2 separate regions of the Homo sapiens genome follow, and region 2 is linked to region 1. Evidence: fine-mapped expression QTL. A gene starts in region 1. The other region holds a variant in brackets. All regions are shown on one strand. Distances are between the middles of the regions.

Region 1 (4,401 bases):
CCTTTCCATAGAAAACCGTACGTAATGAGCCTTAAAGTTCCTTATGACCCCTTGATCTAAGGGCTGAATTAGACATGTTGTGTTTAGGGGCAAGGAGGCCACTTTGGTGCTCTCATTGCAGAATCTATGGGGTTCTGGGTGGCCAGGGACATTGTCCAATATCAAAAGCAATTTAAAAGGAAGTCCCTTACTGGCAAGGTACTTCCTGACTTCAGGGACAGAGCATTGGTTTTCATGGAACCAAACCAGAAAAAGTGTTTTCGTTGTACAGGGCTTTTTATCATAAAACAAAAAGACTTGCAGCTGGTGTTTATCTTTTCCCTTAAAGGCTCAGGGATTAGCAGCTTTATAGATGGCACATTTGAAAGCACTTTGGTAAATAGGTGTGTAGTGAGAAATACAGTATGAAAAGAATGTTGGGACCATCAGCGAACTAAGAATCAAAATAAAGAATTTCCACAGTGGATGTTGAGAAATCGTGGAAGCTTCTTTAGCAGAGAGGTTTGAGCTCAAAGTGCACCTTAGATGGATAGTGCATCTTATAGTGACGTGCAGGAAGGGGTGTGTAAAACGGGAGTCCACTGAAAAGGCTATCATCCTAATGCAGGTGAGATTTCATGGGGATCTGATAGGAGGAGAGGAAGCTATGGAATGAAAGGATTGTCCAGACAATACTTTGACATGCCATTAGTTTGATTCACAGACGAAAGACAAAGATATAAGATTATATAAATATAATCTTATATCTTTATAAATGTGACCACTCATTCATTCATATTTATAAGATTATATAACTATAATCTTATATAAGGTTATATAACTATAATCTTATATAAGGTTATATAACTATAATCTTATATAAGGTTATATAACTATAATCTTATATAAGGTTATATAACTATAATCTTATATAAGGTTATATAACTATAATCTTATATAAGGTTATATAACTATAATCTTATATAAGGTTATATAACTATAATCTTATATAAGGTTATATAACTATAATCTTATATAAGGTTATATAACTATAATCTTATATAAGGTTATATAACTATAATCTTATATAAGGTTATATAACTATAATCTTATATAAGGTTATATAACTATAATCTTATATAAGGTTATATAACTATAATCTTATATAAGGTTATATAACTATAATCTTATATAAGGTTATATAACTATAATCTTATATAAGGTTATATAACTATAATCTTATATAAGGTTATATAACTATAATCTTATATAAGGTTATATAACTATAATCTTATATAAGGTTATATAACTATAATCTTATATAAGGTTATATAACTATAATCTTATATAAGGTTATATAACTATAATCTTATATAAGGTTATATAACTATAATCTTATATAAGGTTATATAACTATAATCTTATATAAGGTTATATAACTATAATCTTATATAAGGTTATATAACTATAATCTTATATAAGGTTATATAACTATAATCTTATATAAGGTTATATAACTAATCTTATATAAGGTTATATAACTATAATCTTATATAAGGTTATATAACTATAATCTTATATAAGGTTATATAACTATAATCTTATATAAGGTTATATAGCTATAATCTTATATAAGGTTATATAGCTATAATCTTATATAAGGTTATATAGCTATAATCTTATATAAGGTTATATAGCTATAATCTTATATAAGGTTATATAGCTATAATCTTATATAAGGTTATATAGCTATAATCTTATATAAGGTTATATAGCTATAATCTTATATAAGGTTATATAGCTATAATCTTATATAAGGTTATATAGCTATAATCTTATATAAGGTTATATAGCTATAATCTTATATAAGGTTATATAGCTATAATCTTATATAAGGTTATATAGCTATAATCTTATATAAGGTTATATAGCTATAATCTTATATAAGGTTATATAGCTATAATCTTATATAAGGTTATATAGCTATAATATAGCTATACTCTTATATAAGATCATATAGCTATACTCTTATATAAGATCATATAGCTATACTCTTATATAAGATCATATAGCTATAATCTTATATAAGATCATATAGCTATAATCTTATATAAGATCATATAGCTATAATCTTATATAAGATCATATAGCTATAATCTTATATAAGATCATATAGCTATAATCTTATATAAGATCATATAGCTATAATCTTATATAAGGATCATATAGCTATAATCTTATATAAGATCATATAGCTATAATCTTATATAAGATCATATAGCTATAATCTTATATAAGATCATATAGCTATAATCTTATAAATGTGAACGAATGAGTGGTCCGCTGGCCGAGTGGACCCGCGAACTCACCAGCGGACTTGTAAGCGAGCTCACCTTGCCCGCTCCCGCTCCCGCTCCAGTTCCCAAACTCTTGGAGCAGAAGAGTTACATTTCCCATAAGGCCCCGTGCGAGGGGCCGGCGCTCCAGCGGGGCATCCTGGGAAGCATAGTCCACGATCCATAAATCACTTTCTGGAGACCCGCCCTCGCCAACATGGCGGCGCCCAGTTGGGGCGGGTTCGTTCGCTTCGCGTTTTGGCCAGGGCGGGGGTCTGGGCTTTAGGCAGTAAGTGCGGCTGGCGCCCGGGGATCCTGGGAGGGACGTGGGAAGCGTAGGGACAGTGTTGGTGGCCCAGTCTGAGGAGGGCGAGGCGAGAGGCTGCCCAGGCCTGCCTGAGGACGCGGCGCTCTCCTGGAGTCGGGGCAGTGGTTTCGGGCCACGGGGACCTCTGCCTTTTTGCGCCCCTGGGCCTGTGGTGGCTTGGAGGGCCTCGGCCGGCCGTAGGAGTTGGGAATTCAGGAATGCAGACAACGAGCTCGAGGCTAGACTCTCGAGTTGTGTTTTTTTAGTTTTCTTCTGAGGAAAAGAAAAATAATTGCATTTCAGCGCTTCCTGTCATTTGGTACCTATGCTAGGCGCTTTACGTTTCTCATCTCCAAGTGACCCTCCGCCACACTCGATGTGAAACCTTGGGGAAGTCACCTAGGCCCCCAGGGCTAACGATGGGATTAGTGGATACATACTGGAAGGCCTTTAGGCTTGATAATTTTAGTGGCAGTCTTCCCCGCCCTCCGCTCCCCTTCCCCCCTCCCTCCCCAGTGAACTGACTTCCGGCCCAACAGCTTCGGGACTGTACTAAAGTGCTCTAAAAAAAGTTAACTTGATCTGTTTAATTTAAATGTCATAATCTGGTATATAGTACTGAAGGGTGTGACAAGCAGAGATTTTAGAGAGTTGATTCTCAGAATTTAGGGTTGGCTTTGCCGTCCCAGCAGTGGATTAGTTGTGGCAACAGGTTTTCTTTTTTAAAAAAATTAGTGATGTGAACGTGCCTTTTTAAAAACAGCTGTTACTTATTGTGGGCCAAACCCTGTACACTAACTGCCCTTCTTTCGTTATGTCATTGGATAGTTTAAATGACCCGAAGAGACAGATGGTATCCTATTTTACACATAAGAAAACAGATTAACATATCCAGGGTCACACAGGTAGTTAGGGTCCTGATAGGGATGAAAAAAATCTAGATCTTGCTGCCTCCAAAACCCAACTACTGTACATAGAAACAGTAGTCCTGTGTTCTAAGAAACAACAGAATCGACTCCCAAGTGTAAGGTAGGGGGATTTGGGGAAAATTTATTTTAAAAATAAAAGCATTTATATGTCACTTTTTTTAAGGGTAGTATTTAGTTTCACAATGTTTGGGGACCTGTTTGAAGAGGAGTATTCCACTGTGTCTAATAATCAGTATGGAAAAGGGAAGAAATTAAAGACTAAAGCTTTGGAGCCACCTGCTCCTAGAGAATTCACCAATTTAAGCGGAATCAGAAATCAGGGTGGAACCTGTTACCTCAATTCCCTTCTTCAGACTCTTCATTTCACACCTGAATTCAGAGGTATGCTATGTTACGTACATTTAACTAGCAATATGTACCATCTTCTTTACATGTAATTAATTATGCAAAATCACAAATAGACCAATTATCTTAAAGATATATTCTACAGTATGTGTTTATTGTTGCACATATAAGATATAAATTGGTAATTCCCTCTGCAGAGAAATGTGAAGCTTAATCTTAAATATATCCTGGGTGATGACAATAATGTTTAGTAAAAAAATAAAGCAATATATTTCTTTTTTAATTCCTGTAATTTAAAGTACAACGTAAAGACAATTGTCATAAGTATCAGTCTTCATTATTGTTACACTGTTTGAGTTTTAAGATTTCTCTAGAATAACAAACACTTAAGCCAGAGTTATCCAACCAATTATATCTACCTTTTGGAGTGGGGAAGGGTGTCATATTATTTATATGGGTGCACAGTTGTTCATACGCATTTCTGAAATCTGGAAAGCTCACACCC
Region 2 (4,401 bases), 110 kb after region 1:
GACTGAGGGGTTGCCAGCAGGGGTGGGCACCAGCCGCACAACAAACCAAATGACCTCTGCGGCCCATTCCTTAAGACCGGGAACTCTGGACTAAAGTGTGCTGCCCTGTGTGCCCAGCAACCTGGCGACAGCAGTCGTTTCACACACAGCCCGAGCCCTGCTGTCCCTGGGGCACCAGCTTACCAGGGCCATCTTCCCAGACAGCAGCAGCTCCGTCTCACTGCGCAGAGCTCTGAAGTTATTCACCATTTCCAGGACGAAGCTGCAGTTGAGCCCCTAGAAGAAACCAGGCAAATATGCATGGGGGCGGGGGGCCGAACATGCACGGTTAGGGGCAGGGAACAAGCACTGGGAGGGCCGAACATGCACCGGGGAGGCGGGGGAATGAACACGCACGGGGAGGGCCGAGGGCGGCAGACACTGAGAAGAAGCCAGGACTGAAAAGGCCAGAATAGCTACCTCTGTGGTTCTGGGCTTGCCATACACACGGTCCATGGACTTGGAGCTGGCATTGACGGCGTGGGCCAGTTCCTGCTCCATGTCCCGGTGAGACTGAGCTATTTCTCGGATACTAGAGAGGAAGAGAAGCACGGGCAGATGTCAGGCCAAATGGAAGGGCAGCCTTTCACAATACGCATCTGAACACGGCCCAGGTACCACCTGGAGGGCTGATGTGGAGGGCAGGCCCAGCAGGACGACAGGGATCGTGGCTCAGCCCAGCGACCGTTCAGTCACAAGCTTGGGCACAGGATGACCCACAGCAAATGGGAGGGCTTCCACGAGAAATCTGACGTCAAAATCCAAGATTTTCCAGGGAGAGAAATGTACAAAATGAGGCTTACAACCTGTAAAACGGCCAGTGGGCAAGTGACAGTGTGCACAGGCCCACTGCAGAGACTGCTGCAGTAAGGCACAATCCCCACAGCCTTGCTGGAACCTGTAACTGGCCGGTCTGTCCCTGGGGACAAAAGGACCCTCATCTGAACAGGACAATCCTGGTGCAGTGATGGGCTCTGAGCCAGACCCCAGATAGCAGCCCTCATAGGGAAGACGGTGAGAGCACAAGTCACACCAGGTCCCAGGGAGGCTGAGATGTGGCTCAGGCAGGTGAGATCGGGGGACAGAGACTATAGGAGCAGTGCAAGCAAAGGCAGCGGGGCCAGCCTGTCCTGACCCTGTGGAAACAGGCCGCTGCCAGCAGCTTCCTGCAGTGCTGTGCAAGTGCACCTTCCAGGCAGGCCAGAGGGGCCACCATGGGCTTTGAGGGGACAGGGTAATGGCTTTCCAGGGGAGGCCACCAGAAGCCCACTGCACGGCAAGGAATTAGCTGAACTGAAGTCCTCCAGCCCCATCACTGATCTGGGTGGGGTGGGGGAGAGACGAGGACAGGGGCCGCAGTGGCACCAACTCCTGGGGCAGAGAATGCAGCGCCAGGAAGGACTGCAGCCGGTATGGAAGTGCAGAGCGAGGAACGCCGGTGATGACTGGGACAGCGACCACCTGCTCGACAAGAGCCGAAGGCTGGCACAGACGATCCATCTGCACGCCAGGGCTGGGCAGGCTGCCTGGAAGGGCACACGGCATGCCGGGCACAAAACCGACGGGTGCACCTGTCCACAGCCAGGAGAAGAAGGAGCCCAGGGGAAACAAGAAAGGGACACCAGGGCACCAGCCAGCGTGCGGCCACGGGGGGAGAATGCAGGCAGGCCCCGCACCGGCGGAGCAGCACAGCTGCCGGCTGGGAGGGACTCACAGGCGGAACCCGCACCTGGCGGGCGAGGAGCAGGAATGGCAGACAATGCTGACCACCAGCCACGAGGGACACAGTGGCTCCAGGGGTGTTTCTAGAAGGCAGGTGAGAGGAAATGCCCCAGCAGTTGTCTTTTTTTTTTTTTTTTTTAAAGTAAACTTGAGAACAAAGAGCAAGCCTGTTCTCAGGGTAAAACGAGGGCAAAGTGAAGGCGGCTGTCAGCGGGCTGCCCTCGGGAGCCAGGGCAGGGTTTTTTTGTTTTGTTTTGTTTGTTTTTGAGGCAGAGTCTTGCTCTGTCGCCCAGGTTGGAGTGCAGTGGCGCTATCTCGGCTCACTGCAACCTCCGCCTCTGGGGTTCGACTGATTCTGCTGCTTCAGCCTCCAGAGTAGCTGGGACTACAGGCGCCCGCCACCACACCCAGCTAAATTTTTTTGTATTTTTAGTAGAGACGGGGTTTCACCA[T/C]GTTAGCCAGAATGGTCTCAATCTCTTGACCTTGTGATCTGCCCACCTTGGCCTCCCAAAGTGCTGGGATTACAGGCGTGAGCCACCGCGCCCGGCTGAGCCCGGGCAGGTTTTAAACGAGTGGTCCTGAAAATCACAGTGGGCTTTAGGTTCCAGCCATGTAAACTCCAGGCGAGTTCTGAAAGACCACTGGGGAAATGAGCCAGAGCTGAGGGCACATAAACAGGCTCGGCCCTCATGGGTAATGCAGACCCCACAAAAGTCAGGAGCAGCAGCTCCACGCCCCAGGGGCCTTGGAAGAGTGCAGTCCCAGGGACCCTGGGGGAGGCTCATGCGCAACGCAGAGGGGTAGGAGCCCACCTGTGAATGAGGACCCCTGCTGCCTGCCCAAACTGGTCCATCTGGGTGGCCTCCTCCTCGGACAGCATCTCCGGGTGCAGGGAACAGGATGGAGGGCGGGGCAGCTCGCACTTCTGCTTGTCTTCCCAGGACTTCAGGGTGCTCTCAAATGCCTATGGACCCGAAAGCCCAATTACACCTGCTGCTCTGAAGCATGCATCTGACTGCGACAGACACTATGGGGATGCCAACGAGATCACAACTAGAAAGAGACAAATAGGACTTTTTTTTTTTTTTAACATTAGGGGAAGGAGATGGTCCTAGAAATTACTGCCCTATTAGCTTAATCATTGTGTCTTAAAAAAAAAAAAAATCCTAGAACAAAACACAAAAAGCTCCAGCTCTTAACAGTGCACACAAGAGCCCACAGGTGAGCCCTGTACCCCACCCAGGTACCGCGGGCAGCCGCTCTTACCCTGTCTCTGGTCAGTGTCTGTGCCCGGTTCTTGTGGACAATCCGAATGTACCCTGGCGGCTGGACCCAGGCCTCTCCGTCCACCTGCACAGGCACGCCCTCATCCCCAAGGATGGAGATCTTCACCGTGCGACACTGAGCAGACATCATAGCCATTACTCATGCTGAGCCAAAACCCCCAGGGGTTTAAAAGTGCTATCAGCACCACCATGACCTTCCTGCTCCACACACCCGTCCCTGCCTTGCAGGACACCCCACCTCTGCCTCTGGGATGGCGCTCCGCCTGCAGCTAGCCTTCTGCTGTTGTGTCACTCAACCGAGGGTCTGTTCTCCCACTGTCCCGCCCCATCCCGCCCCATCCCCTCACTGAGCAGTCAGTGCAGGAGACCTTGGTGCTGAGACAACAGGTGTCAGAACCCAGGGGCAGGGGTGTTGTAGCTCCCAGAAGCCACTGGGCCCCTGCCACGTGAAAACACCCCTAGAAAAGAGCAGATGGCACAGTGGATGACGATGAGCCATCCATCATCATCCCGTTCCTCCTTTTCAACAACAAACATTGCCAAAGAGTGAAAATTGTGAACTTCAAGCAGCCTACAGCTAAGGGTAGACAGAGTGCTGGAAGACACCAGACAGTCGCAGGGTGGGGTTCAGCCAGTGGGTGTCATCAGCACCCTCCCCCGCCCCAGTGCCTGTGCCTGGGTACAGAGTCCTGCCCCATCCTCACAGAAAGACTGCCCTCAGCCCATCGCTGCTGTCAGAAATAAGCCATGGGGGCACCCCCAGCCCTTCACCACTCGGCCTCAGAACCATGATCGAGGGCCCCAGCTGGAAATCCTCCCACACCCCACATCAGAGCCATGGGCTCCGTCCCCACTGCGGCTTTGACAGCTGCAGACACGGGCAGAGTCCAGCCTGGGTCTGCTCTATCTCATCCCACCTCAGAGGGGACAGGCAAGGCTGTGGTTCAAGCAGGATACACATTTTGAAAGAGTTATCTTGGCCGGGTGCAGTGGCTCACACCTGTAATCCCAACACTTTGGGAGGCCAAGGTGGGTGGATCATTTGAGGTCAGGAGTTCGAGACCAGCCTGGCCAACATGGTGAAGTACAAAAATTAGCTGGGAATGGTGGTGGGCACTTGTAGTCCCAGCTACTCGGAAGGCTGAGGCGGGAGAATCACTTGAACCAGGGAGGTGGAGGTTGCAGCAAGCCGAGATTGCACCACTGCACTCCAGCCTGGGCAACAGAGCAAGACTCTGTCTCAAAAAAAAAAAAAAAAATTAAAAAGAGTTATCTTGAGAATTTAACTGTCAAGCATAGCACAAGGAAAGGGCTCTGGCCCAGGAAGTGGGGCCACGAGCTGTCCAGGACAGGA

What was found. PIP is the estimated chance that this variant, and not a neighbour inherited with it, causes the effect.
Region 2: its variant is fine-mapped to the expression of USP40 in fibroblasts (GTEx, PIP above 0.99).

The regions. Positions count from the first base shown.
Region 1 is chr2:233,564,887-233,569,287 of GRCh38, reverse strand. It overlaps USP40 (ubiquitin specific peptidase 40), which reads left to right and starts at 2,506. Exons shown (of 32, transcript NM_001365479.2): 1 at 2,506-2,604; 2 at 3,715-3,932. The coding sequence starts at 3,734.
Region 2 is chr2:233,458,518-233,462,918 of GRCh38, reverse strand. It overlaps DGKD (diacylglycerol kinase delta), which reads right to left. Exons shown (of 30, transcript NM_152879.3): 23 at 3,028-3,162; 24 at 2,574-2,725; 25 at 460-571; 26 at 184-276. Among named protein-coding and RNA genes, the nearest start is that of USP40, 110 kb to the left of the region's middle. The variant T/C (reference allele first, on the strand shown) is at 2,214.